Linked DNA regions of Homo sapiens. The protein of the gene in region 1 purifies or fractionates together with the protein of each later gene. This does not show direct contact. Each region holds a gene or a part of one and is shown on either strand. Other genes may lie near its edges.

Region 1 (7,311 bases):
TCGTGATTTGTTGTTGATGTGGCTATTACTAACTAAATGAGACCCGTGTCTGAGCCATTATCTTTCTGATAGGTGGAACTGCATCAGACTGTTCCAGTTACTTTCCTAATACATTGATAATCATTAGGGAACTTGTAAACTGAATAAGTAGCTAATTTCTGTTAGTATCAGTGATACTATTTGTGGTGCTAAATGCTATCTCTCAGCTTCTGATGAACCAAGAGTGAATATATTAAGTTTTTAGCTCTTATAATACTGTTTAGTATTTGTATACATTCAGTAGATCTACTGTTGAGCAAGCCATGAAAATAACTTACTGGATTATATCATTGACTTAGGTTGGGCCTGATCCTCAGGCCAGATGAGAGAAGGAATGGGGAGGCAACTGAAACCATGCCCTCTGTTGCTGAGCTGCCTGGGTTCAAATCCTGCCTCTGTCACTTGAGCTTTAATTTGTTGCTTCTATTTCTTCATCTGCAAAGCTTTGTCATCTGCATGCATCCAATGCCAGCAGGGCTGGGTTCTGGTCTTGTATTGTGGCACAAGAAAATACCCCTATTTTGGTGACTGAAAGCAACACCCATTCTGTTATATCTCATGACTTTGTGAGTCAGGAATCCTAGAAGGGCTTGGCCAGAGGCCTCTTCTGCTCTGTGTGGTGTAGATAGGGATTTCTCAGTGAATGTGGCCAGAGGATCCAAGATAACTTCTCTTGCATACCTGGTGTCTTGATGGAATGGTTGGAAGGCTGGACTCACCTGGACTCCTTAGCATCCCCATCTGGATACTCCAGGAGGGTGGTTGAATTTCTTACATGGACACTCAGGGTTCCAGGAGCGAAAGGCAGAACCGTTCAGCCTTCTTAAGGGTGAGACCTGGCACTGGCACAGCGACTCTGTTGCTGAAAGCAGTCACAAGCCAACCCAGATGCAAGACTCAAAGAACTTGCAGTCATCTTTAATCTGCCACAGGGGATCATTTGGGTTGGGAGGATGGCTTGGGAGGACAAGTCAGCAGTTCTTTTACTACCTGTGCCAGCTTCAGCATACTGGTGAATTTCAAGTCTCATTACCTCCATTTTACAGATGAGGACACTGAGGCTTAGAAGGGTCACATGACTTGCCCAGCCCCTAGAGATACAGATACACATCTGCTTATTGGGCCTTCTGAAAGGTTCCACATAAAAAGAAATTTGTTGGGTTATTTTCCAAGCTTATGGGACAATGGAACACTTTTTTTTCAGAGAGTCCCTATTAATAACCCATGACACATTAAACCTTGGAGTTGGGCAGTTTGCTCCCCTTGTTTTGATCCTGTGCTCTTCATCACTGGCAGTGTGGTTTCTGATGTAGGCCTGCCTCAGAGGAAAGAGTCTCCCAGTGATGCTGTTGTGAGCATTTTGATCAGGGTGACAACAGCATTTCTTAATGTGAATTAGTACATGATGTGCTACAGGGCGATTCATATTGTTTATGTTCTTTTGTTTGTTCTTTGTTCTGTTTTGTTTTTGTTGGTTGGTTGATGTCATGTCACAAGGAAATGTGTAGAATGTTTTCATAAGACATTAAATCCTAGTTTAAAATTTAGAGATGCCAGAACCAAAGTTGTCACCCTTTAACAGGGTGACAGGCTTCATGCTCTATTCTCTCAAATAATTCATTCTCTGAGGGGTCTAGATAGCTAAGATTTAAATTCTCTAGGTATAAATAAAATTCAAAAGTAACCTTCAGGGTAGCACATTTCAAAGAACGTAGCCTGAAACTCTGTATAATTTTTTGTTTTTGGAGACAGAGTCTTACTGTGTTCCCCAGACTGGAGTGCAGTGGTGCGATCTTGGCTCGCTGCAACCTCTGTCTCGGGGATTCAGGGGGTTCTCATGCCTCAGCCTCCCAAGTAGCTGGAATTATAGGCATGCGCCACTATACCTGGCTAATTTTTTGTATTTTTAGTAGAGGTAGGGTTTTGCCATGTTGGCCAGGCTGGTCTTGAACTCCTGACCTCAAGTGATCCACCCGCCTCAGCCTCCCAAAATGCTGGGATTGCAGGCATGAGCCACTGTGCCCAGTTTGAAACTACTTTCTAAGCGCATTTTCAGATTCTCTCTCAAAGATTTACCAGTGATTTATAGTGACAGCTCCTGCCAGCTAGGATGATGAAGAGCACCTGAAAAAATGGTTAATATTTTTACTTAGGCCAGTGTGAATAAAATAAGAATTCCTTGAAATCACTGGAGCTGTATTTCTGTGTGATCCTGGAATTCCTTCTAATCTGGTTAGGTTTGGTTATATTCTGGAAACAGCTTTGTTGCTTGAGTAGTGAGGACAAGAAAGGATTTTCACCCGAAGAGAAGAAATCACATAAGGAAATTCCAGGACAGACAGGAATCGCTTTTGAGCTGTCTCCCTCTACTCCCCATAACCTTGGCATTAACCTGCCGTCCTTCAGACAAGAAGCATGTGTAGACTGTTTCACACATGCAGTAATTTCTTTCCTGTTGAACGTCAGTGTAGAAAGTGAACCTGCATCTGGTTTTTCAGGTCGGTAAATAACCAATATTGCAAAAAGGTGATTGGCGGGATGGTGTGGAACCCAGCCATGCGGAGATCCTTATCAGTGGAGCACTTAGAAACCAAGAGTCTGCCTTCTCGTTCCCCTCCCATTACTCCCAACTGGTATGTCCTCCTTTTTTTTTTTTTTGTACTACCCAACAGTAGACACTTTATCTCTTTTAAAAATAAAAACTCAACTTATAAACTCCTAAAGATAGATGACCTACAATTTGCATTTTAGGCTCTTGGCAGAAGTAACTGTTTTCATGAAGTACACAAGTCTAGCTAAATGTTTTCCATCGTGTATAATGCTGAGATGCTCTTTTTAAAAAAACTTATTCAATCTAAATAGTTTGGGAAACTCGAGCCTGCTGAAAGGCCTCCTTTGGAATCACAGCACACATTAGCATATTAAACACTCTGAGACGTCCAATAATAAAAAAGTACGGTTAGCTTTACTTAATTCATGTTTTCCATTAATATCCCACAAAATAAACTTTAGGGAAAACTAACGCAGGTACGTGATGTAAATGATGTAAGGATGTATGACCTTCAGCAGCAGAAGCAAATGCACATCAGTAAGTAGCAGGCCAACTTAAGAGGATGGACTCAGCTTAAAAAGAAATAGGTGGTCGTTTGGTAAAGTGAGAAGGGCACTGGGTTTGTAGCAGAAAGACCTAAACTCAGGTTTTGGCCCTTCTGTTAATTAACAAGTTTCTTTACCTCTGTAGCCTCAGTTTCCCCATATCTAAAAAGATGATAAAAACTACCGCAAATGAAATAATAATGTACAAGTACGTAGTAAGCTTTTAAAAGAGTCAGGTGGAATTATCATTATCTTATTATAATGGTCCTCAAAGACATCACACCATTTTTGTGAATACCTCCAAAAAGGCTAGGGGCCAGAGGGGAAACCTAGCAGGGAATCATTGCCCCCAGCTCCACACTGGAGTAAGAGTGCGTGGCTGTAAATACCTGATCCAGGATCTGCTAAGCCTAAGAGAAACTGGGAGACAGGCAGACAGAGGAGATGCTGTGCTGGGCCTGCTAGGGAAGGACCCCTTCACTGGGGGCCTAATGCTCTGGGAAGGGACAGTGATAGTATTTAGTGTTAGAAATCATGACGTAACTGAATAGATTTGCTTCTTGGTTTCCAACATTTAGATACCTCATTCTAAAGAGGTAAATTTATGCTATAACACAGCAGCTTAATTTATCTGAAAATCTCATCGGCAGCAATGCCAGGGGCCCAGAGAGCCCAGGACTGGATCCAGGGGAACAGCGGGGTTGGATGTTGCCACACTCGTGGCCCGGAGCTCCTGTGGCTATTTATAGGTCCTCTCCTGAGGAGTCACAAGAGCCTTTTTACTTCTGCTTTGGACACAGCATTATTGATTATCCAGGCCCAGGGGGATTGCAAATCATGGAGGCCCTGACAGTCCTGAGGAGAAATGGCTAACAAAGAAAGGGAAGATGGAAAAACTGTGAGGGAAAATAGAACTTAGAAAGCTTGGCAGCTTGGGATCCCCCGCTGCAGGAGCTGACGCCCAGGTGCCACACTGGATGCCCTGAGAACACGGCCTCATTGGATTCATTCTCAGGAGCAGGTAAGTACAGCCGAGGCCCAGAGAGGTGACGTGCCTTGCCCAAGGTCACATGCCTACTGCCACTGTTGGAGGACAGTCCAGTGTTTATATGCCCATCTAATGCATATAAACGTGTTTAATAAGGGATATATCTTAAAAAGCAAACATTTTCTCTTGGATCAAGTGAAATTCACATGAAGGGATGTCGTTGAAATAAGGTTGGAGTTTTGCTGAGAAATGTAGTTTGGCTTCTAACCCTTTTGTTTGCATTGTTCAAATTAATCAGAAAAATTATCTGAATAGCAGTCCATATGGCCTATTTATGTTTTGAGAGCTTGAGTCCTCCTGGAAGAATAACTTACCCTTAAGTCAATACCCGTCACTTCCCAAAGGGCATAAACCCATCTAATTCTGCCTGTTTATACAGCTGAGGCTACTGTTTTGGGAGCCACCACTTGACTGAGAGTGTTAGGGATTTGTGTCACCCTTGGTGCCTTCTGCTGGGGTAGTAATGAGTTAACCGGCTCTGAATGTCAGCCTCCGCCAAGGAAGGCATCCTTAGAAAGGTCAGGACACGAGGTTCACTGGTGTCTAATAAAATTTTTAAGTGGAATTTGCTTTGAACACTTTGCACTCAACGTTTTTCCCACCCAGGCGAAGTCCTCGGCTCCGGCACGAAATCCGAAAGCCACGCCACTCTTCTGCAGATAACCTTGCAAATGAAATGACCTACATCACGGAAACGGAAGATGTATTTTACACGTACAAGGGCTCTCTGGCCCCTCAAGACAGCGATTCTGAAGTTTCTCAGAACCGAAGCCCGCACCAAGAGTAAGAAACTCGTGTTGTTTTATTTCTGGGTATTTGCTTTTTGGCTGTTGCGGAATTTGCTCAGGTCCAGGTTGCCATTTGAGAGGAACCAAGAGCTGGTGCCTGCAGCCAGCTCCCACAGGTGCCTTCTGCCAGGATAAGAACATAAATCAGACTCTACCTTTTCACCCGGAAGACGGTCTATGTGCCTGGGGTCTAGAGCTTGTACTTCTTTTTGTCCACGACAAAGACTTCCTAGTCACTAAGTACTTGTTAGTCTCTTGAATTAGTCTCCTCTCCAGCTCACAAGCAAAGCCCAGTTTAATCATTCCCTGTTCTGGAGGTACAGACTCTAGGGCCATGCTAACTCTGATTTCTCTAGATTATTAAAGTTTTACCATCACATGATTTCAAATCATTGGAAATATGCTTGCTTCTAAAAGCCTTCTCCGAACAACAGGGTTCTGAGGGGTTTTGTTTTCAATTAATAGTTAGTATAAAGAAACAAACGTTAGAACATCTCTAATTTTCTTTGAGAAATTTTTTGTTAAATTTTTATGTCCTACCTCCCCCACCCCGCTTTTTTAACGTGACAGAGTTCCCTCATAGCTCAAGGACAGAAAAAATGTCTGTCCTGAAAGATGGTTGAGTGCTTTTGTTATTCAATAGGATATATTTAACCCATTTGTTTCCCTTTTTGCCTTGGTTACCAGGGAGTTCAGAACTGCACATTAGGCTCAATTGTATTCACTTCCCTCAGCCCAGATTTCTTGTATAGGACCTTCTCTTCCTCATTTGCCTTTGTTATATGGGTCTTTTTTTTCTTATTTTAATGGATTCATAGTTACATATCTGTACGTTTTGGGGTAAACTCGCAAATCATTTTTTTAAGTAGGTAAGACATAGATTATAAATTAGGTTAAAGCATGATAGTAAAGGATCAACTGTTAGGAAATCAACCATAGTCATTGGGTATCTATTCTGTTAAGCCCCATACTATTTCTAAAATATAGTAAGATAATGGCCCCCCTAACAGCTGAGGATTAGCAAGCAGGCACGTTAGTTAATCTGTAAATTTTTTACCACTGTAGCTATTAGGCTGAAAGCATCAAATGCACCCTGATTGGACTCCAGGCATTTGCAGGTGAATTGCAAATCTCCTTCCCATTTGTATGTGAGGCTGCTACCTCTCCTCTGTCCTTGCCCACAGCAAACATGGTTTCCAGTTTATCTGTGTTCTTAACACCTCTGGTTAAATAATCCCTGTGGTCATTCTTTCCTTGTGACCTGAGCTTGGATGATGCTTTTGCTAAATGATTGCTATCTCTTGTTCCAACTTGCAGCCTGCTGCCCCTTTGTCAGGGCTACAGTGGATGATTGTGAGTTCCTTTGTGTGACTTTGTAGCTTTTCAAACCACAAGCACATCTAGAAATACAAAGCAGGAGTGCAGGCATGCGTGACTAGAGCCGTTTTGAGTCTGCAGTGGGGGCTCTGCGGCTTTGGCAAAAGGAGAAAACGGTTTAGGGAAGCGTTGGAGGGCTCTGGGAAGCCCACTCACACCTGCTGCGTCAGAGCTTCCTGTGGTGGTTTGCAGTCCCATCACAGAATTGTACAGCATCTAAACCTTCCCTGTCCAGTACAGCAGCCACCAGCCCCAGTTGTCTATTCAGATTTAAATTAATTAAAATAATAAAAATGTAGGCATTCAGTTCCTCAGTCACATGAGCCTCATTTGAATTGCTTGACAGCCACACAGGAGTGTTGGCCTCCATCTTGGACAGCACAGATACAGCCCATTCCCATCACTGCAGAAAGTGTTGTCAGCAGCACTCATCTAGACTAACACGTTTATTCCATCGTTCATTTAAAGGGTGAACCCCTAGAATATCTACAAGCGAAAAGTGCATTTTTCACACAGAATTCATGTGGGAGTAGGTTTGGAATCATCACCTTGCTTGCAGTCTGGGCGCTCCACACCACTCACCCAGCTGCTCATCTGTGGCATGGGGCAGGTGGATAGCCTCTGAGTGCCCTCACAGCCCAGCACCCTCTGTCTCTTTATGCAATCAGTGCCAGGTGGGGAGGGATGCATTCTGTCCAATGACATGCAGGCACTTTAGAGGGCTTGCATTCATTCCCAAGTCCAGCGGCACACTTTATACATCCTTGGCTGGTCATTGAGGGGAACACCGGAGCAAATCAGAGAAGTTGTTTCAGGAGCCTCCAGGCCAGCTGGGCAAATAGCACATTATCAGCCTACGCTGCCACACTCCAGGGCTCTGTCACTTTGGTGAAAGGAAAAGGGGGGCTTAGGGAACAGTACGTGCCCTACATCAGATTTTCCTCCTGTGGTCTGCAGTCCCAT
Region 2 (7,311 bases), on another chromosome or scaffold:
TATTTGTTCAACAAATATTTATTACATAACTATTTTATACAAGCACTATGCTAGGCACTGTGAGGTATACAAACATAGATCAGAAATAGATCATGCTCGCAGGGAATTTATAGTGTAATTGGGGAGATTAAGATAGATATGTATAGAAATAATTGCGATAAAAAGTTAAAAGCAACTAATGCCATAAAAGAATGGTTTCCATTCTATCGTTTGCCTTCTAGACAATTTATTTGTACTAGCCTGATAGAGCCCTAATCTCTCCTTTAGTGACCCAATTCATATATATGTATATATATGAATGGTTTTTAAGTAGATAACAGAATATTTTTGTTCACATGCAGTTTTTATTTACACTTTTTAATGATTAAGGATAATAGAAATAAAGAGTATTAGGAGGAAAATAATTTTTAAAGCCTTATGACTATATACATGAAGAACCTAGAATTTTTTCCTTTCATGTCAGATGATAATACAGGTTTCCAGTGTTAGAGAATTTACATCATTTGTTTCTTTGTAGGGGAGTGAGTATTAATGTTCTCAGGCATGAAGCAGAATTTTACGGGATCACTCCATTAGGTATGTGCTCTTTTAATATTTGGTGTTTATGATTTGACTCATGTATGAAAGTTGCCCTAAATGAAATGTGTTTATATCAGGTCCTAATTTTTGATGGACTTGTTCAGTGCTTAGTTTTTGTGGATTTTCATAGTAAAAAGATGTTGTCAACTCTGACTTAATTAAAATTTTCCTTTTCTTTCCTTATCCTCTTGAACTAGAGAAAATAAAAATGGAGTACTGTTTTTCTGTTTGCATGTACTCTTGACAAGTTTGCTTTGAAATGTTTTTAGTAAGAAGGCTTCTCTTATGTGAAGAATTGGAGCGTTCCTCTTGTGGCAGTGTCCTTTTTCATGGTTACTTGCCCCCACCAGGTATTTTCACTTTATTAAATCTTTTAAAAAATTCCTTGTATCATTAAGCAAGTACAAGCATATGAATAGGAAAAACTGCTCCTTGATTATTGAGTTTTTTGTCTATAAATCTATTAGAAATGGTAAGAACTTTTGATTTTTATAGAAATTAAGTCACATTATATATTGGAGCAGGGGTTTGGCAAACTTTTTCTGTAAAGAGCCAGATAGATTTTGTGAGCCAGAGGATCTCTGTGACAGCCACTTAACTCCGCTGTGTATACTACATGAAGACTAGGTTTAACTGTAACCACTACAACTTTATTTACATAAATAGCATTGATTGGGCTGGATTTTCCATGGCCCATAGTTTGCTGACCCATATGTTAGAGCACTGGTTGTCAAACTGCTTTTTTGCAAAATTTAAGGAATTCTGCAGAGATAAGTCAGTGTCACCTCAGCCCCACTTTAGTTAGAAGAGCCTGATTTTACCTGTGTTATAATGGACTTCTGAGCAAGATTTCATTTTAAAAAATGTTCCCCTGTCAAATAAAAAATGTTTGAAAGTATGGGGAATTTCAGTTCTAAAGCAGTTAAATTATTACATAGTACCTAACACATAATACCTGTACCATAATTGTAAAGAGTGGCTGGCAGACTGAATTAATTACCCATTAATTCAGTAACCTAAAGCTTATTTATTGTAAACAGTATGACAATACCAGAAATCTGTTGACAGAATTTTGTCTTTGTCTTTGTTTTTTTCATTTTCATTTTATTTTTTAATTGTAATTAAATTATTTGTAATAATTTGCTATATTGGAAGATGTATTTCGGCTTTAATGAAATTCACATTTTTGTTTCTTTGTCACAATGTGATATTTTTAATTTTTGAAAGGTGAACTTAGGAATGTATTTGTTTTCTTCTTCTCTTTATAGGTATTCCTAGTCGTAAAATAAACAACACAGTCAGATCTGCTGATTCTAGGAATGGTCTAAATTCTACAGAAGGTGAAGCCCGGGGAAATGGTACACAGCCTGTTCTCTCTGGAACGGGAGAAGAAACTGTTAGGCTAGGTAAGCAAAGATTACAGAAATAGAAAAAGAAAAATACGTATGTTTTTAGTGCTGGGTGATATTGAGTAATTACTTTTAAAGATTTTTGCCTCATCTCCTTTTTTATCCAGATTTATCATTTATATCTTGGAAAGGTCTCATTTAACACTTAATTTTTATTTAAAATGTTGTGTAATCTTCTATCTTCTCTGAATCTTTAGAACAGGGTTGCCAAAATTTATCTGGTAAGAGCCAGAGATTAAATATTTTAGGCTTTGTGGGCCACGTGTTCTCTGTCAGACCTACTCAACTTTGCCATTGTAGCATGAACACATAATGGACAATATGTAACAAGTAAGCATGGCTGGGTTCTAACAAAACTATTTTTTTTTTTTTTTTTGAGACGGAGTCTCGCTCTGTCGCTCAGGCTGGAGTGCAGTGGTGCCATCTTGGCTCACTGCAAGCTCTGCCTCCTGGGTTTACGCCATTCTCCTGCCTCAGCCTCCGGAGTAGCTGGGACTACAGGCGGCCGCCACCATGCCAGACTAATTTTTTGTATTTTTAATAGAGATGAGGTTTCACCGTGTTAGCCAGTATGGTCTCGATCCCCTGACCTCATGATCCGCCCGCCTCGGCCTCCCAAAGTGCTGGGATTACAGGTGTGAGCCACTGTGCCCGGCTCTTAACAAAACTATTAACCAAAACAGGCAGAAGGCTGAAACTGGCCTGGTGGCTGTAATTTGCCAACCCCCGGTTTAGAATGTAAAATATTTCTTTTTCCAAAATCAACAGGATTTCCTGTGGATCCACGAAAGGTGCTAATAGTAGCTGGCCATCACAACTGGATTGTAGCTGCATATGCCCATTTTGCTGTGTGTTACAGGTAGTGTATAATTAATAATGCTTTGCTTTTACAGGTGGCAGTTTGAAAATTAATTGTGATTTTATATTTTTAGATTGAAAAGCTATTTTTTTTTAGTCATCAAGTTTTTTCCCTGCATATTTTACCCATGTCTGTATCATCTGATTAAGATTTAGTGTACTTTTATTTTCACAGCTAATTTGGTAAATGTTTCTGATAGCCTTTATCTGTTGTAAACATTTAGCAGACAAGTGTGAATTGTCATGTAACTGAGATATCCTGATGTATTATTTATTGCTTATACCTAGCTTCTGAGACTGTAGTATATAATGATGTTAGACAGGATTATTAATGTGAGCTCCCTGATGGTCTATCTCTAATGATTCAGTGTTTTGTATTCTATAGCAAGGGAGAGTACATTGGTCATAAATACCACATTTTGGGAAGTGAGGTAGTAAAGCAGGACAGTTATTGCACAAGTGGTATAGTTTAATATCTAATATGTGAAACTTACAAAGAAGTAGTTTGGTTTTACTAATGCTTACATTCTCAGAGCCTGAGAAGCAATGAAGAATAGTGTAGACCGGTGATTTTTTTTTTTTTAATTGGGAAAGTGATAGGACTCTTAGTTCAAAATCACTGTACTCATTGAGAAATGTTGATGACAGAGAATGGTGTAGAAGCACAAAAGTGGTTGGAATATACTAGCTTAGATTATTATTTCATTTAATTGCAGAAAAATCAAAGATACATAAACTATTTGTTTATCACTGTTGAGTTCGGTTAAGAAAAATAGTCACAATAAGCTGAAAAATATCTAAAATGTCTTCTAAAGTTTACAGATATAGTTTAAAGAATCCCAGATGTATTTTTTTTTTAAAAATCTGAATTTATGAAAGGTTTGGCATGTCTGGTAAGTGCTGTTTATATCAGTAATCTCAGGTTTATATTTTCCTTGTAGTAATGATTAAGTGCAGACTTTTATGTTTTAAGAGTGTTTTGGCTGGGCACGGTGGGTCACGCCTGTAATCCCAGCACTTTGGGAGGCCGAGATGGGTGGAGTTCAAGATCAGCCCGACCAACATGGTGAAACCCCATCTCTACTGAAGATACAAAAATTAGCCAGGTGTGGTGATGCATGCCTGTAATCCCAGCTACTCGGGAGGCTGAGGCAGGAGAATCACTTGAACCCAGGAGGTGGGGGTTGCAGTGAGCTGATAGCTCACCATTGTACTCCAACCTGCGCAACAGAGCAAGACTCTGTCTCAATAAATAAATAAACAAATTTTTAAAAAAAGTGTTTTGTGGATTTGTAATTTTAATTATGAAATAGCATGGAAATTGTTTTTTGCATAATTTCTTTGGGGATGGTTTTGTATGAGGCAAGACTAATTTGGTAAAGTAATTTTTTTTTAGGAAGCATTGTTTTGAATTTATCATCTTATATATTTGAATTGAGGTGACTTGTAGACCCTTGTTTACATATTATGTACATATTTTTGTCAATAAGGAATTCCAGAAGAATTGTGAAATGATAAGTGATCCAAGTGTAACAGCATAACTTCCGTTTTGTTACTGTACACAATACTAAAGATTGCTCTTTTCCAGAACCACCACATTATTACGCAAAATTTAACTCACTGGGTAATAATTGTATGGAGGATGATGCTATTACATTTTCCAGTCTTTGCGTTTGCATTGATCACGATCTTTCTGTGCTTTCACCAAGTGTCTGACATTTCAGAGCAATATACTCATGTAAAGTGACGAAGGAAGACAATTGAGGACATATTTGGATTTCCTCACATATAGTTAAATCATTCAACACAATGGCAATAAAAAGATTTCAAAAGAAAGAAAAATATTTAAACTGTTTAAAAGTGTAATCTTTTTTACAAGTTATTTTTCCTCAAGTTTTTGTATCAGTAAGTTACAAAACCTTTAAAAAAAGAGTAGTACAGTGAAGACCTGTATGATGTTCTCCTAGCTTCACTAATTTTCTACATGGTTAGGTTTTATGTTTATGTCCCTTTTTCTTGCTGAGTTTATGACAGTGTTACTTCTATTAACGAAGAGTAGTTGTGTGAATTGCTGCCCCCTTGGGGCTTATATTCCACTTTAGATCTTTAATCCTTGTGGAGTTTACTTTTTTGTATGTGGTATGAGATTTAAGGATTTATTTTCTTCTCAGTGGGTAGGTAATTATGTTCTGACAATTTATTACGTAAATCATTCTTTGTCAGTGAATCTGATAGCCCATTTTATCTTGCTTTATGTGTGTGTATATACTTGGATCTGTTTTTCAGTTCTCTCATTTCCTTAAGACATATGTCTATTCTCATACAACTTGAGGTGAAGTATGTTCATAATAAGTTTCAAAATCTCACAGGGCATGTCCTCTCTACTGTATTTTATTGAGGTCTTCATGTAGGAAATAACTAGACGTAACTCTATTCTTCGCATAGCTGTCTTAACCAGAGGGTTGGTTCACTAGGCAGCAGTAAGATGATGGAGAGGTGAAATAACAGAGCATATTCTTGTTTTATATTTTGTTTTATTTATTATTATATATTTTTTGTTTTGTTTTGTTTTTGAGATTTTGAGACAGAGTCTTGCACTGTCACCCAGGCTAGAGTGCAGTGGCGTGATCTCGGGTCACTGCAACACCTGCCTCCTGGGTTCAAGCAATTCTCCCACCTCAGCCTCCTGAGTAGCTGGGACTACAGGTGTGCACCACCACACCTGGCCAATTTTTGTATTTTTAGTAGAGACGGGGTTTCACCATGTTGGCCAGACTGTTTTCAAACTCCTGATCTCAAGTGATTCACCCGCCTCAGCCTTCCAAAGTGCTGGGATTCCAGGCGTGAGCCACTGTGCCTGGCCTTGTTCTACATATTTTAAATGTATTACTTGTATGGAAAGTTATAGAGCAAATATGTACCTTCTTTGTAATTTTTTAAAAAACAGGTAAATTCACATATCTTATTAAGAGTTAAATTCTGTAGTTGTTATAGTTATTTTTAAATATGCTGTCCTGATTCTTTTATCCTTTTTTGACATCTCTTTATTGTGTAATACCCTAATTACTATAGAGAAAAACAACTTAGAAGTAATATGTCTGTAAAAGATGAGATTATATAGTTTTTTTTTTTAAGTGAATCCAAGTTTATTAAGAAAGTAAAGGAATAAAAGAATGGCTACTCCATAGCCAGAGCAGCCCTGAGGGCTGCTTGACTGAGTATACTTACAGTTATTTCTTGATTATATACTAAATAAGGGGTGGATTATTCATGAGTGTTTCAGAAAGGAGCAGGCAATTCCCAGAACTGAATGTTCCTCCCCTTTTTAGACCATATAGGGTAACTTCCAGACATTAGATGTCATTTGTAAACTATCATGGGGCTGGTGAGAGTGTCTTTTAGCATGATAATGCATTATAATTAGCGTATAATGAGCAGTGAGGACGACCAGAGGTCACTTTTGTTGCCATCTTGGTTTCAGTTTTGGCTGGCTTCTTTACTCCGTCCTGTTTTGTCAGCGGGATCTTTGTGACCTTTACCTTGTGCTGACCTTCCTTGTTACGCTGTGACTAAGAATGCCTAACCTCCTGGGAATGCAGCCCAGCAGGTCTCAGCCTTATTTTACTCAGTCCCCATTCAACTCTGGTTTGAACACCTCTGACATGTTTTCCCCTTCCCTTTTACAAGGGTACTCTTAATCCTAAGGGTTTCAGAGGGAGGAAGATTCATCTTCTGTAACTTCTGCAGTCTGAATAGGGATGATGGTATTTCTGCCTATTAGGGTCTTCTGCATTCAGAGTAGAGGAGAGCTCAGTTAGAAACTGTCAGTATGGTGAGAACTCTGATTTCTGACAAAAAGTGATGACTGAAAAATTAATAAGTGTTCGATTTAAGAAAGCACTGAGTAAGCTTATCTTGCATTCCTACACAAAGAGAACAACAGCAGTATATTCTACAATAACAAGGCAAAATAAGTAAAATTATCCCAAGTAAACTAAATAAGAAGGCTTTTCATGAACTGGGAAATTGTTGTAACCAAGCTGATATGGAGTTGGAACCAAGCTGATGTGCTAGCCAATTCCAATACATGCCCACAATTAGAATACTGATCCAGATTTCTGTGTTACCCATGCCTCTTGTTTCTTCTGAACAGCAGCCACAGATCACTGCTTGGTCCACAAGGATAAGCAGGATGAGTCCAAATTGCAGAAAGAACTCAAAAACTACTGATGAGACAAATCTAATAAAAAGCATACCATAGTTTTTGAAACAATTTTCCTATTTTCAGTCTTTCATTTTTACTAAAGAAATCATGGTAGGACTGATTTGTTTGCAAAATAAGCTTTAGTCTTATTATACTTGGCCTGATTATTTGTATAAAGTGCAGCAAGAATAATTAGTTCCTATATAGGCTCTTTTTAAATTGACTTTGATAGAACTTTGATCCATAAAGAATCTCAAATGA
Region 3 (7,311 bases), on another chromosome or scaffold:
GTCATCGGCCCCCAGCACGCGCCACACATGGGGGTGCTGGCGTTTGTGTTCAACGCCTTGCCCACTTGAGCCGCCTCCTTTGAGTGGGAAATGGGAAAGGGTTGGTCCGCCCTGGTCTGTGTTTTGGCCAACACCCACCCCCCTTATACACACACACACACACACACACACGCACGCACGCACGCACTACTCTAGGGCCCTGCTCCCTCTGCCTGTTGCCAGGTTCTGAGTGTATTTTTTCCAGAGGCCTCCAATTGTTTCCTGAAGAAACCTGATCCCAGAGCTCAGACAAAAGCTGGGGCCGCCAGAGGAGAAACCCCATTCTCTCCTCCTCTGTCCCTATTGCCCCCACCTCCATAACCTCCCTCCCTTTGGATGCTGGGTATGGGTTCCAGGACCCGGCTGCCATCACCTAGGCAACAGGGGGCTTTTGTTGCCATGGTGATCAATGTGGGAGAAGCTGGGCAGCAGGGACAAAAGCCCCCACATTCCCCCCTGCCAAGCTCCCCCCCAATCCCCTTGGGATGATACTGAGACACATTCCATTAATTTTATTTCTGAAAGGCCTTTGGAGGGGAGAAGGGTCTCCTTTTTGTAACAGGCTCTCTCTTCTCTCCCTCTCTCCTCCCTGGCCTCATTTTAACCCCAGATAATCCATGGTTGGTTTGAGCAGGGGACTGAGTGTGTGTGTTTGTGTCTTGGGAAGTGGGGGGCAAGGTGAAAGGCAGTGGGGCACATTCCTTTTCTATAGCCTCCCCCTTCCCCAGACTAGGGCAGCTCCCTGTCCTGCACCAAGTCCGGACTTCCCTCCCTGTCTCGTCATCCCTCTTGACGTTTCCACTTGTTGATCTCATCCAGCCATCCCCTCCCCCCATCTCTTCCCTGGGAACGCTGCCCACCCAGGGGACCCTCCAAACCCCTGATCCCTGAGACTGATTAAATAAGGGGAACTTCTGCCCTTCTCTTTACTCCCCTCTCCTCCCTCCTCCCAGGCCCCCCAGCAGCAGTGCTTGGATTAGTTCCCTGGTGTACTTGAAGACACAGCAGGCAAGGGTCTCAGAAGTCGGGTTCATTTTTGGCACCTGTGTTTGGTAGGGAGGAGACAAGCGTGTTTTGGTGCTTTTTGGGCACTCTGACTTGGGTTGGCAGGCCAGGGGAGCAGGATTCATGTTGAGTCTTTAGTAAGTAGCAGGGGAGGAAGATAGGGGGCACTAGGCTGGGCAGCTCAGAACAAAAGGGGACTGGTACCCTTGTCTGGTTTGAAATTTATCTGTAGGGGAAATGAAATGGCATCAGTTTACCTTCTGGGTGTGTTTGAAGTGGTGGTTCTGGTTGGTGTGTGTGTGTGTGTGTATGTGTGAGACTTCTTTATTTAGTTGTACTAACAGCAGGGTTTATTTATACCACCTCTTTCCCTAGTCTCAGAGGAAGTGTCTGAGGATTGGAGTATGAGTGATCCTGGAGCTAAAACTTGTTAATTGCTTAACTAATTACTAGCTGAACCATTTATAAAAGCACTTCTTTCACCCTCGTGATCCTTACGGCTACCCCATGAAAAGGCATCATTGTCTTCACTATTTTACTAATGAGCTTACCAGGCTACAAGCACAGAGGTGTTAAGTAACTTGCACATAGTCACACAGCTAGTCAGTGGAAGAGTTAGGTTTTGAACTCAGATCTTTGAGTGCACATCTCTGGCTCTTCTGGCTGTTGGCTTTGGCAGATGATGGGTATACAGGAGGATGAGGAGATGGACAGCCTGGGATCTAGTGTGTGTGTCTAGACTCTAGTCCGTGGCAGTTGTTTACTTCTCCACCCCCTTCTCTACCCCCATGTCACTCTGTGACCCACTCGTTGCCTTTGAGCCTCCTAGCAAAATTCAGTTTTTATGAAGAAGACTAGAAAGAATAGGCTGGAACCACAAGAGAAATGCAGGTCAGATGTCTAAACTATAAGGAGGAGTAGGCCAGTAGAATGGGTCCTCAGGAGAGTGGGTAGATGAGCCCAACATATATTTTTCAGGTAGGGGGATAAATAAGGGTCATTTTTGCTGCAAAGTTTTTTGGAAAGGCTTATGGTTGGGTTAAGGTATTATGTCCCTGTCCTCTAAGTGTGTCCTTATCACGCACGTGCTTTGACATGGGGATACTGACAAATATAACTAATCCTATGGAGGATTGCCTCCATTGAACTCTGTTAAGAAGATGAATGAATAGATTTCACATGCTTTCATCTCCCTACAGTCATTATAGTTTCCCTGAGAGCCAGAGAGGCATACAGTCATGGATGTTTTGGTCAACGATGGACCACATATATGATGGTGGTCCCATAAAATTATACTATTGTATTTTTACTGTACTTTTTCTATGTTTAGGTACACAAGTACTTACCATTGTGTTACAGTTGGCTACAGTGTTCAGTACAGTAACATGCTGTACAGGTTTGTAGCCTGGGAGCAATAGGCTATACCATAAGGCCTATGTGTGTAGTAGGCTATACCGTCAAGGTTTGTGTAGGTACATTCTATGATGTTCCCAGGATGCAGCTGCCTAATGACACATTTCTCAGAAAGTATCCCTGTGGTTAAGCGAGGCATGACTATGTTCATTTACTAGGTTGGTATCAGTTCCTTGCTCTGTGCCCATGGGAGGCGAGATGGATATAAATATGTATCAATCATATTGCTTATTCTCAAATTACTGATGGTTTAGAGTAGTTGGAGTAAAGGTAATGATACAAAGCAAATCCATTTTAGGTTTTTTTTTTTTTTGAGACGGAGTCTCGTTCTGTCGCCCAGGCTGGAGTGTAGTGGCATGATCTCGGCTCACTGCAACCTCCACCTCCCAGGTTCAAGCAGTTCTCTGCCTCAGCCTCCTAAGTAGCTGGGATTACAGGCACCTGCCACCATGCTTTTTAGTAGAGACGGGGTTTCATCATCTTGGCCAGGCTGGTCTTGAACTCCTGACCTCGTGATCCACCCGCCTTGGCCTCCTAAAGTGCTGGGATTACAGGCTGGGATTACCCGGCCCCATTTTAGTTTTTAACATAATCAGCCTCTCAGCAGCATTTGACCTGGTTGACTTAATTCCCACCTCAAAACACTGTTAAATTTCTGGCTGCCTTGAGACCCCACTCTTCTGGCTCCCCTCCTCCTCTGGCCTTCTCATCCCCTTTGCCTGCTCCTTTTCCTCTGGACATGTCTACCTATTGGGGTCCTTTATGTCCATGGAAGAGTTAGGTTTTGAACTCAGCTGGATCTGAGTTCTATCTATCCCCATAGCTTTTCACACACTCAGTACCTCCAGCTCAGACTGTCCTCCAAGTCTGGCTCGTCTGACACCTGGCTGCCTACTGTCTCATGGCCACTAACTTAGCAGGCTAGAAGCTGAACTAATTATCTTCCCTCACAAGGCTGCTTCCTCCCCAGTCTTCCCTACCCTACTGATGGTGCTACCATCTGCTCCCTTGCTCAGGCCGGGGATTCTTAACTCTCCCTTCCCGCTCATTAGGTCCTGTTGATTTGACCACCAACATTAAGTCTCAAACATGACTGTTACTCACTCTTCTGTGGCTCTACCCTTAGCAAGCCTGTACTACTGCAGTCGCCTCCTTATTGATCTCCCTGTTTCTATTTTTCCCTCTTTTCAATCCATATCTGCATAGCTAAAATCCTTCAAAGTTTTCCTGTGGCCTTAGAATAAAATAAAGCTCAAGCTCTTCACCTGGTGCCTGGCTGTCTCTGCAGTGCCACCTTCTACCACCCACTCTCTTCCTCAACTCTAGCTCCACTGGCCTTTGTTGGTTCTTTAAATACAACAAGCTCTTTCCTGCCTTTGGCCTTCACACATGTGATTCCTCTGCTCCATGGGCATTTTCCTGCACTCTTTGCTTGGTTAATTCCTATTTCTTCTTCAGGCCTCTGCTGAGGTGTCCTTTTCTCAGACTTTCTAGAACCGCTAAGTTTAAAGTGGTAGCCCTTACTCCATGGGTGTCTCTCATAGTTTGCTGTTCTGCCCTTCCATCATGCCTGCAATCGGTCGTTTATACTTATCTGCTTACTTGTTTGGTGTGCCCCTTCCCTGCTAGACTGTAAACTCAGGGTCTGTTATACCACTTTATACCTAGCAGAATACATGGTTCATAGAAGGTGCTCAAACAAGATTTGATGCGTCAATGACTGAAGATAGGAAGTAAGCGCTCGGTGGATGGTGATGGCTGTTAGGGGAGTCAGGGTCAGCAGGGAAGATAACATTGGGTCTAGAGTAGGTGGGGGCTCCTATGAGGGGGTGGGGCCGGGCTCTGAAGAATGAGCAGGATTTGGGTGGGGGTTAGAGAGAGGAGAGGTCATTCTCCTCTGCAGAATCAGAAGGTGAAGTATGGTTGAAGATAAGCCTATAAATAGGCAGATAAACTTGTGCCTTGCCTGTTTCAGAACTTCAGGCAAGTAGAAACTTGTCTTCTCCTCCCATCCCCTACCATATTATCCATAGTTTCCACCCCTCACCCTCACCTGGGGCTGTGCATATGTGTGGCAACCTCAAGGAAGCTGCCAGCCTGATCTTACCGGTAACACTGGGTGTGTTTGAAGTAAATGCTGGGGAGATGGTATCAAGGGAAGCAGCCCACTGTGGGCACACTCAGAAAGTATGAGTGAGGGGAGGAGGTGTAGCATGGGGAGAAGAGGCCTGGGGTAGCCCCTGGACAGAAGCCCGCTCCTTTCTGCTCTCTGAGGTGTCCACTGATTCAGCCTGTTGGCCTGGCCAGAACCTGCCCTCTTCATGCCTCGGTTTCCCTGGCTGAGAATAGGGAAGCAATGCCCTGCTCCTCCCTTCCAGAGGGCTTGGGGTTGGGTCATTCTGGGTGAGCCTTCCTGCCCTGGGAGCCTTTGCTGGCCATCTTCCCCCATGCCTGAGTCCTTGGCACAGCCTGGCAGGGCTCTTTCTAGAGAAGGGTAGGAGGAACTGGGCCCAGTGGACAGCAGGAACCTGGGTGGAGATATTCTCAGGCTATGGCTGGGCTCATTTGAGCCTCCTGTGGCTGTTGTGTGCAGATGGTCTTCCTCTGCCCTGACCCCACAGGGAGCTCGAGCCGCCTCTAACTAGCTTCTTCCTCTCACCAGGAGCGTCGCTGGATTTTCTCTGAGACAAGCCCACCCGTCCAGCAAAATAGAGTCCCTCAGGGTGACAGTTGACTTCCTGAAGGTGCCTCTTGGCCTAAAGAAGCCGGTGCTGAAGGAGGTGGCTGTGGGGCCCCCCAAGAGGCCCCAGCCTGCGGCCCTGGAGCGCTACAAGGCGCGGCGTTCAGACGCCATGGACACCGAGTCCCAGTACTCGGGCTATTCCTACAAGTCGGGCCACTCCCGCAGCTCCCGCAAGCACAGGTGGGCAGGCATGCAGGGTGACATGCGTGGCGGAGGGAGGGTTGGGGGCTGTTAAGAGGTGGGCACGTGCAGGGGTGGTAGGGTAGAGTGGCTGCTGAGAAGACCCTGGTCCACCACTGGACTTTCTGTGCCTTTTCTGGCTTCCTGCCGCAGGGACCGCCGGGACCGACACCGCTCTAAGAGTCGAGATGGGGGCCGAGGGGACAAGTCGGTGACAATCCAGGCTCCCGGGGAGCCCCTGCTGGACAATGAGTCCACACGAGGGGATGAGCGGGTGAGCACTGGGGATGCGGTGGTCCAGACCGGGCATTTTCAGACTGCTCCTGAGGGGCTGGAGGCTCCACGGAGTGGGGGAGGGCTTGGAAACCTGGTCTCAGACAGCCATCAGATCGGGGAGTGTGTTTTGTGTTACACTTAGCTTGGCTTAGTGTCTTAAGGTAGGACCTTCAGGAATTTCAGTATAGAGATCCCTCTGGAAGCAGCAGCCTCTCCTTCCTTATCTCCAGAGGAGTGGGGGGTGACCTGGGCTGTATGATGGGAATTGGCCAGCTCCTCTGGAGCTGCCGCCAGCCAGTCAGGCCCGCTGGGAGTCTGGAGCAGGAGGGTGGTGGTGGTGGCTGGGCCTGGGGTATGTGTGAGCAAAGCTGAGTATTCCTGGAGCCTCGAGATGTGGGCACTCTGTGCCCTCTGGTGTCAGCCTGTAGAATGGCGTCACCTAGATCTTGGGAAAGGAGTATGGGAAGAGTAGATGGAGAAAGCCCAAGGGACAAGAAGTAAGGCTGAGGGATGGAGCAGGGACCCCAGGAGAGAGTTCTCCAGGACAGGGGTGAGCAGGTTTTCTATTCTAACCTCTGCTGCCCACTGTGCTCACCTGGTAGGGAGGACAGTGGGCAGAACACAGTCCTGGAATAGGGCAGAGGCAGGATTTTAGGTGACACTGAGGTTGCCCAAGTCTCATTCCCCTTGGGATCATCTTTGGGGGCTGGAGATTCCCAGCTCCTTTTTCCTCAGAAGAAATCTCTGTGGCTGACATTGGGAATTCCTGGGCCTTGGGAGCAGGTCAATACCTGAAGGAAATGTTCTTTTTCCCTCTCTCCCAATCCCTTCTTCCTGGGGCCTGGCCTCCTGAGTTCTTGAAGTGACCCTGAGACATGACCAGCTCACCTGCTACTGGGGAGGAGATCCCAAGCCCTTGGTCCTTGGAGGGGGTGGGCAGTATGTCTAGGGGTCAGAGGGCGGGGAGCAGACCCAGGGCTTTGAGCTGAAGGCAGTCAGTGCATCTGCTTTCTATCTTCACATCAGACTCGTTCCCCATCCTGTAGAGAGGAGGTTCCTCAACCTCCCTAATCACTGGTGCTGTCGGGCTGCCTTCATCCTGTAACCTCAACCTCCTGGGTGTCAGGTTGTGATTCCATATCCCCAGGCTGTCCCAGGAGCGAAGGGTGGGTGCTGAAGGCAGCTGGTGGTCTTGGGACTCCTCCGTGGGATGGCCTCCAGCCACTGCAGAGAAACAGCTTGAGCAGACCACACTTAGAGGGACACCTGGGGACCTCAGCCTGGCCACCTTCTTGCCTCCAGAGACAGGTAGCCTCTGCACTGTAGACATTTAGATGGCCCAGCAGAGGTGGCCTTGCAGACCAGAGACCCAGAGTGGCCTTGAGTCTGCACAGTGTCCTTCACGCCTTCACCCCTTTACCCCTGGGGTCTTCTGTTCTTCTCTGTGCTGCTTTGATCAGGTTTACTCCTTCAGTGGCTCTCCATGCCTGGAGAACAGGTGCTTATTGCCCAGCCCAGCACTGCAGCGTGGCCTGCACAAGCCCTGCCTGGCTGCTGTCTGCCTTACCTTCCTGGTTGCACCTTGCTGTGCTTCTGCACAGGGATCCTCTGCTCTCATAGCCCTTGGGTGCCTCAGTTCATGCCATTCCTGCCCT
Region 4 (7,311 bases), on another chromosome or scaffold:
GGGCCAGGCACATTGGCTCATGCCTGTAATCCCAGCACTTTGGGAGGCTGAGGTGGGTGGATCACCTGAGGTCAGGAGTTCGAGACCAGCCTGGCCAACATGGTGAAACCTTATCTCTGCCAAAAATATAAAAGATTAGCCATGTGTCGTGGTGGGTGCTTGTAATCTCAGCTACTTGGGAGGCTGAGGCAGGAGAATCACTTGAACCCAGGAGGCAGAGGTTGCAGTGAGCCAAGATTGTGCCATTGCACTCCAGCCTGTGCAACGAGCGAAACTCCAACTCAAAAAAAAAAAAAAAAAAAAAAACGGAAAATTAGGTAATACTGCAGATTCATTAATATCACAGCAGCACTAAACTCAGTCTTCCTCTGTGCTGGGCTCAAGGGAACTGAAAGGGAAGTAACTTGCTATGTGGTTCAGTGTCATTTCATGCTGTGTCACTGCACCACTTAAAATCTTCACCCGGAGACTATGTCCCACACATGGGGAAATCAATCACCGTCATATTTTAAGTGCTTGCTGTGTGACAGCCACGATTACAATGACTGTTACTCTACCTCTTATTCTCACTGTAGTGTTCCCAGTGAAGCGGCGGAACCGGCACAGCCTAGTGGGGCCTCAGCAGCTAGGAGGACGGCCAGCCCCTGTCCGACGGAGCAACACGATGCCCCCCAACCTTGGCAATGCAGGGCTGCTGGGCCGAATGCTGGATGAGAAAACCCCTCCCTCACCCTCAGGTACGTTTCTATCTCGTGGAAGGTTGGGGCAGCTGTGGGGTCCCTGTGACCCTCTTCTGATCCCTACTCTTCCCCTCAAGGACAACCTGAGGAGCCGGGGATGGTGCGCCTGGTGTGTGGACACCATAATTGGATCGCTGTGGCCTATACCCAGTTTCTAGTCTGCTACAGGTGCTTGGGGAGGGAGTGGCAGGAGGTCCCAGCCCTGTTGATGGGAAGGGCATGCGGTGAGGGTTGGTGATGTCCCCTCGATCCTACAGGTTGAAGGAAGCCTCTGGCTGGCAGCTGGTGTTTTCCAGCCCCCGCCTGGACTGGCCCATCGAACGACTGGCGCTCACAGCCCGGGTGCATGGTGGGGCTTTGGGTGAACATGACAAGATGGTGGCAGCAGCCACCGGCAGCGAGATCCTGCTATGGGCTCTGCAGGCGGAAGGCGGTGGCTCCGAGATAGGTATGACCCCAAGCCTTTTCCAGAACCCTCTGTCCTTTAAATTCTACTGCCTGTTAAAATGACCCACCCCATAAAATCCTCAAACCCATAAGAATTCTCTGCTCTATTAGATCTGTTTGTGTCATTAGAATGCTCCAGCCCTTCAGAATTCTGTATCCTGTTAGAATTCCCTGGCTTCCTAGAAAAATCCACCCACATACAATTCTCCCTCCATCAGAATTCCCTGCCCTGTTAGATCTCTTGGTTTTGTTAGAATGCGCTATTCTGTGTGGCCATGAGAAATGTCTGACTTGGCCCGGTGCGGTGGCTCATGCTTGTAATCCCAGCACTTTGGGAGGCTGAGGCGGGCAGATCACTTGAGGTCAGGAGTTCGAGACCCCCTTGGCCAACAGGGTGAAACCCAGTCTTTATTTCAAAAATACAAAAAAATTAGCTGGGTGTGGTGGCACGTGCCTGTAATCCCAGCTACTCAGGAGGTTAAGGCAGGAGAATCACTGGAACCTGGGAGGCAGATGTTGCAGTGAGCTGAGATCGCACCACTGCATTCCAGCCTGAGCGACAGAGTGGACAGAGTGAGACACCATCTCAAAAAAAAAAAAAAAACAAAAAAAGAAATCTCTGACTTATGGCTGGGCACAGTAACTCACATCTGTAGTTCCAGCACTTTGGGAGGCCATGGCAGGAGGATTGCTTGAGGCCAGGAGTTCGAGGCTGCCGTGAGCTATGTAAGCCATGATTGCACCACTGCACTCCAGCCTGGACAACAGAGCAAGACCCTGTCTCAAAGCCACAGCAACAAATCTCGGACTTATTAATCTGTCCCCAAATAAATCTCAGCCCTCGTAAGAATCCCCTGCCACCAGTGGAGGTTTTTTTGCCTTATTGCAAATCTCAGTGCTGTTAGAATTCCAGACCGTTTTAGAATCCCATACCCCATCAGAAATCTTCTGGCCCATTTTATCTTCTCTAATTCCTGCTGGAATCTTCACTTTTTTTTTTTTTGAAATGGAGTCATTCTCTGTTGCCCAGATTGGAGTACAGTGGTATGATCTCGGCTCACTGCAACCTCTGCCTCCTGGGGTCACGCAATTCTCCTTCCTCAACCTCCCAAGTAGCTGGGGCTACAGTTGTGTGCTACCACACTCAGCTAATTTTTATATTTTTTAGTAGAGATGGAGTTTCATCATGTTGGCCAGGCTGGTCTCAAACTCCTGGCCTCAAATGATCCGCCCACCTGAGCCTCTCAAAGTGTTGGGATTACAGGTGTGAGCCACTGTGCCCAGCCCCTGATGGAATCTTCTATCCTTCAAGGATTCTGTGGTCCCACTGAACCCTCTGGTCCTTGGAGTTCTTCCTCCCACCTCTCCTCCTCCATGAGGCAGGGTTCCAGCTGAGCCCTTTTTGCCCACTGCAGGGGTCTTTCATCTGGGGGTGCCTGTGGAGGCCTTGTTCTTCGTCGGGAACCAGCTCATTGCTACAAGCCACACAGGGCGCATCGGGGTGTGGAATGCCGTCACCAAGCACTGGCAGGTCAGAGTTCTGGCCAGCCTGGCTGCCCCCTTCCCAGTTTTCCAGACTGTACAGACCCAGGAAGGGGTTCACGTCTGCCCCCACCCCCACCCCCTAAGCCTGGAGGAAGCCAGAGAACCAGCAGCTGGCCAGAGCCTGGGGATGTCTGTGATAAAGGCCTAAGGAGCACCAGGGAAGCCTTCCTGGAGGAGGTGCTGCAGAGCCCACATGAAGCATGAATGGGTTTGAAAAGGAGTAGGGAGGATTGTCTTGGGACTGGGTGAGAGAGCAGGTTAGGGGGGATGCTGTAGAAGACAAGAACTGGCTTGGCTCGGTGGCTCACACTTGTAATCCCAGCACTTTGGGAGGCTGAGGTGGGAGGATGGCTTTGGGAGAAAGACAGACAGAGGCAGAGAAAGAGACAGAGAGGCAGAAAACCAGGCAAATAGAAATAGAAAATCAGAAAGAGGTGACAGAGAAGGGTAGACAGAGTCAAACCAGACTGAACCACTGTGGCAGATGGGGGAACTCAGAGAGATAAATGGAGATGAATTAGAGTCATGTCAGAAGTACATAGTGGAGGCCGGGTGCAGTGACTCCCGCCCGTAATCCCAGCACTTTGGGAGGCCGAGGCAAGAGGATGGCTTGAGCCCAGGAGTTTGACGCCAGCCTGGGAAACATAATAAGACTCTGTCTCTACAAAAAATTTAAAAAATTAAAACTTTAAAAAGTACAGAGTCCAGGAGAGGCCAAGAGTCAGACAGACAGATGCATCAAAGGGAGGAAGGGAGGGAACAAGACAGGGACAAAGGCAGGCCTGGGGTGGACGGGGCTGGGGAGCAGTGGGTGGGTTCTGGAGGTGGAGGAGAGGGCCCATCCTCTGTGAGGGGTCACCACGGAAGGAAAGGAATGGAAGGGCTCCCGGCTGCAGCCTGTCCTGCCCCACCCCCAGGTCCAGGAGGTGCAGCCCATCACCAGTTATGACGCGGCAGGCTCCTTCCTCCTCCTGGGCTGCAACAACGGCTCCATTTACTACGTGGGTGAGCAGCAGCCTGTGTCCCGGGTGCCCGAGACCCTCCCCTGGGAGAGGGGAAGGGAGGGAGAGAGGCTGGGGCACTTGGAACAAACCCGCTCCACCCTCCCTGCCCACCCCAGATGTGCAGAAGTTCCCCTTGCGCATGAAAGACAACGACCTCCTTGTCAGCGAGCTCTATCGGGACCCAGCGGAGGATGGGGTCACCGCCCTCAGTGTCTACCTCACCCCCAAGACCAGTAAGCTATGACCCGGCTTCCCCTGCTGCTGTCACCTGCCAGCCCCAGCCCCAGCCTGCAGCTGTCCCCCAACTTGTGTAGCATGACCCAGAGGGGTTTATCGAGGGGCGGCAGATTCAACTCTCTCTCATTTTTTTTTCTGAGACAGACTCTCATTCTGTTGCCCAGGCTGGAGTGCAGTGGTGCAATCTTGGCTCACTGCAACCTCCACCTCCTGAGTTCAAGCGATTCTCCTGCCTCAGCCTCCCAAGTAGCTAGGATTACAGGCGCCCACTGCCACGCCTGGCTAATTTTTGTAGTTTTAGTAGAGATGGGGTTTCACCATGTTGGCCAGGCTGGTCTTGAACTCCTGACCTCAGATGATCCTCCCGCCTCAGCCCCCCAAAGTACTGGGATTACAGACGTGAGCCACCGCGCCCAGCCAGATTCAACTCTCATCCAGTCATTCAACAAATATTTACTGAGTATCCCTGTATATAAGCACGTTCTAGGTGCTAGATGGTGGCCACCCTCTCCACTAGGGGCAGAATGGACCATTAGGAGTTAATCTTTGTGTTTCTTTCCCACCTTTGTGATTAAGGCATGATGTTCACATGTTCATAAAACAACACAGATGCAGGTTTTACAGCAGATGAACCTGAGTTCTCTTACTTGAGACAGTTTTTTGTTTTGTTTTCTTGACATCAAATGCAGAATGGGTTAATTTTTGAGACGTAATTCTCATACCATAAAATTTCCCATTTGAACGTGCACAATTCAGCGGATTTTAGTATATTCACAAGGTTGTACAACTATCACCATGAACAAATTCCAGAGTATGTTCATCACCCCCGTAAGAAACCCCCTGATCTTTAGCAGTAACTCCACATTTCTCACTTCTGATACCCTCTAGAAATCACTAATATGCTTTCTCTTTTTGTTTGAGACAAGGTCTCGCTCTGCTGCCCAGGCTGGAGTGCAGTGGCATGATCTCAGCTCACTGCAATCTCTGCCTCTTGGGTTCAAGCGATTCTCATGCCTCAGCTTCCTGAGTAGGGGAGGATTACAGGTGTGCATCACCATGCCTGGCTAATTTTTCTACTTTAAGTAGAGACTGGGTTACGCCACGTTGGCCAGGCTCAATATGCTTCCTATACCTATGGATTTGCCTGTTCTGGACAATTCCTGTAAATGGGATCATACATTATATGGTCTTTTGTGTCTGCATTTTTCACTTAGCATATTTTTTTAAATGGTTAGTGTTTTCTGGGTCTTAAGATATCCTTACCTATTCTAGGTTACAAAGATCTTCTCCTGAATTTCTTCTAGAAGATTTACAGTTTAGTTTTTACATGGAAGTCTGTTCTATCAGAAATTAAATTTTATGTATGGTGTGAAGCAGGGATTATTCTTTTTTAAAAAAAAATAGAGACAGGGTCTTGCTCTGTTGCCCAGGCTAGAGTGCAGTGGCATGATGTGAGTTCTCTGCCACCTCCGCCACTCGGGCTCAAGCGATTCTTCTACCTCAACCTCCTGAACAGCAGAACCACAGGCATGCATCACCACACCTGTCTAATTTTTGTATTTTTTTGTAGAGACAGGGTTTTGCCATGTTGCCCAGGCTACTCTTGAACTCCTGGGCTCAAGTGATCCTCACACTTTGGCCTCCAAAGTGCTGGAAATACAGACTTGAGTCACTGTGCTTGGCCATAGCTGCTGCTGCTGCTTTTCTTTTTTTTTTAAAGCAGAAATAAGTTAATAATACACCTAACTTCATGACACATTATCACCTTTCTTCTTTGTAAGGCCCTTTTCTTATTTCTTTTTTTTCTTTCTTTCTTTTTTTTTTTTTTTGTCTTTTCCTGAGACAGAGTATCGCTCTGTCATTCAACCCAGGCTGGAGTGCAATGGCGCAATCTCAGCTCACTACAACCTCTGCCTCCTGGGTTCAAGCAATTCTCCAGACTCAGCCTCCCAAGTAGCTGGGATTACGGGTGCCTGCCACCATGCCCAGCTAATTTTTGTGTTTTTAGTAGAGGCAGGGTTTTGCCACGTTGGCTAAGCAAGTTTTGAACTCCTGGGATTCTCCTCTCGTCGTCTCCCAAAGTGCTGGAATTACAGGCATGGGCTGCTGCACCCGGCCTCTTTCTTATTTCACTTACTTACTCATTTCCTCCTCATCTCCCTTCCCGCCACATGCCACTATTATGTCATTTTTCTTTGTTTTTTGAGACAGTCTCGCTTCGTCACCTAGGCTGGAGTGCAGTGGCGCAATCATAGCTCACTGCAGCCTCACCCCCTGGGCTCAAGTGATCCTCCTACTTCAGCCTCTTGAGTAGCTGGGATCATAGGTGAATGCCATCACACCCAACTAGTTTTTTAAAAATCTTTTGTAGAGATGAGGGTCTCACTATGTTGCCCAGGCTGGCCTCAAACGCCTGGCCTCAAGCAATCTTCCTGCCTCGGCCTCTGTTCTCTGTTTTACTTTCTCTTTCCTCTCTTATTTGCTGTTTCACTGTTACAATTTCTGTCTCTGGGCCTCTCCTCCTTTGACCTGTGCCTTTGTCTCCCTGTTCCTCCATTTCCCACATCTCATCACCATCTTTTTGTGTCCTTCCCTCTCTCCTTGCTTTCTGACTGTGTCTCTGTTCTGTGTCTCTTTCTTTCTTTCTTTCTTTTTTTTTTTTTGAGACAGAGTCACATTCTGTCATGCAGGCTGGAGTGCAGTGGCGTGGTCTTGGCTCATTGCAACCTCTGCCTCCTGGGTTCAAGCAATTCTCATGCCTCAGCCTTCTGAGTAGCTGGGATTACAGGTGCGTACTACCACCACCAGCTAATTTTTGTATTTTTACTAGAGACAGGGTTTCAGCACGTTGGCCAGGCTGGTCTTGAACGCCTGACCTCAAGCGATCCACCCGCCTCAGCTTCCCAAAGTGATGGGATTACGGCGTGAGCCACCGTGCCCGGCCTCTCCTTGCTTTCTGACTGTGTCTCTGTTCTGTGCCTGTTTCTTTCTCCCTGCCCTGGTTTCTGTCTCTGTGGCCCAGGCCCTCTCCTCATCCTTGGCCCCTCACCAGGTGACAGTGGGAACTGGATCGAGATCGCCTATGGCACCAGCTCAGGGGGCGTGCGGGTCATCGTGCAGCACCCGGAGACTGTGGGCTCGGGGCCTCAGCTCTTCCAGACCTTCACTGTGCACCGCAGCCCTGTCACCAAGATCATGCTGTCGGAGAAGCACCTCATCTCAGGTGAGCCTCTGTGGGGTGCTCCAGTGCTGGGAGAGACAGCTCAGATGGGAGTGTGGAGACAGGAGGATGAGAATTTCCACTGGGGAGGGACATTGTGTAGGAAGAGAGCTCTGGC

Evidence for each region.
Region 2: the proteins of PTPN3 (region 1) and KCTD3 purify together in Homo sapiens (affinity purification with mass spectrometry; 4 studies listed by BioGRID and IntAct, with this or other methods). This does not show direct contact.
Region 3: the proteins of PTPN3 (region 1) and VANGL2 purify together in Homo sapiens (affinity purification with mass spectrometry; 3 studies listed by BioGRID and IntAct, with this or other methods). This does not show direct contact.
Region 4: the proteins of PTPN3 (region 1) and SHKBP1 purify together in Homo sapiens (affinity purification with mass spectrometry; 4 studies listed by BioGRID and IntAct, with this or other methods). This does not show direct contact.

The regions. Positions count from the first base shown.
Region 1 is NC_000009.12:109,418,079-109,425,389, reverse strand, and holds part of PTPN3 (tyrosine-protein phosphatase non-receptor type 3), read left to right. Parts: intron 1-2,537; coding exon 2,538-2,672; intron 2,673-3,904; exon of another isoform or gene 3,905-4,156; intron 4,157-4,789; coding exon 4,790-4,966; intron 4,967-7,311.
Region 2 is NC_000001.11:215,577,153-215,584,463, forward strand, and holds part of KCTD3 (BTB/POZ domain-containing protein KCTD3), read left to right. Parts: intron 1-517; coding exon 518-576; intron 577-776; exon of another isoform or gene 777-838; coding exon of another isoform or gene 839-848; coding exon 849-929; intron 930-1,847; coding exon 1,848-1,985; intron 1,986-2,756; coding exon 2,757-2,847; intron 2,848-7,311. UniProt on the Homo sapiens protein: Accessory subunit of potassium/sodium hyperpolarization-activated cyclic nucleotide-gated channel 3 (HCN3) up-regulating its cell-surface expression and current density without affecting its voltage dependence and kinetics.
Region 3 is NC_000001.11:160,410,529-160,417,839, forward strand, and holds part of VANGL2 (vang-like protein 2), read left to right. Parts: intron 1-5,119; 5' UTR 5,120-5,309; coding exon 5,310-5,380; intron 5,381-5,533; coding exon 5,534-5,654; intron 5,655-7,311. UniProt on the Homo sapiens protein: Involved in the control of early morphogenesis and patterning of both axial midline structures and the development of neural plate. Plays a role in the regulation of planar cell polarity, particularly in the orientation of stereociliary bundles in the cochlea.
Region 4 is NC_000019.10:40,579,749-40,587,059, forward strand, and holds part of SHKBP1 (SH3KBP1-binding protein 1), read left to right. Parts: intron 1-575; coding exon 576-737; intron 738-817; coding exon 818-908; intron 909-997; coding exon 998-1,188; intron 1,189-2,602; coding exon 2,603-2,718; intron 2,719-3,649; coding exon 3,650-3,737; intron 3,738-3,852; coding exon 3,853-3,969; intron 3,970-6,995; coding exon of another isoform or gene 6,996-7,025; coding exon 7,026-7,196; intron 7,197-7,311.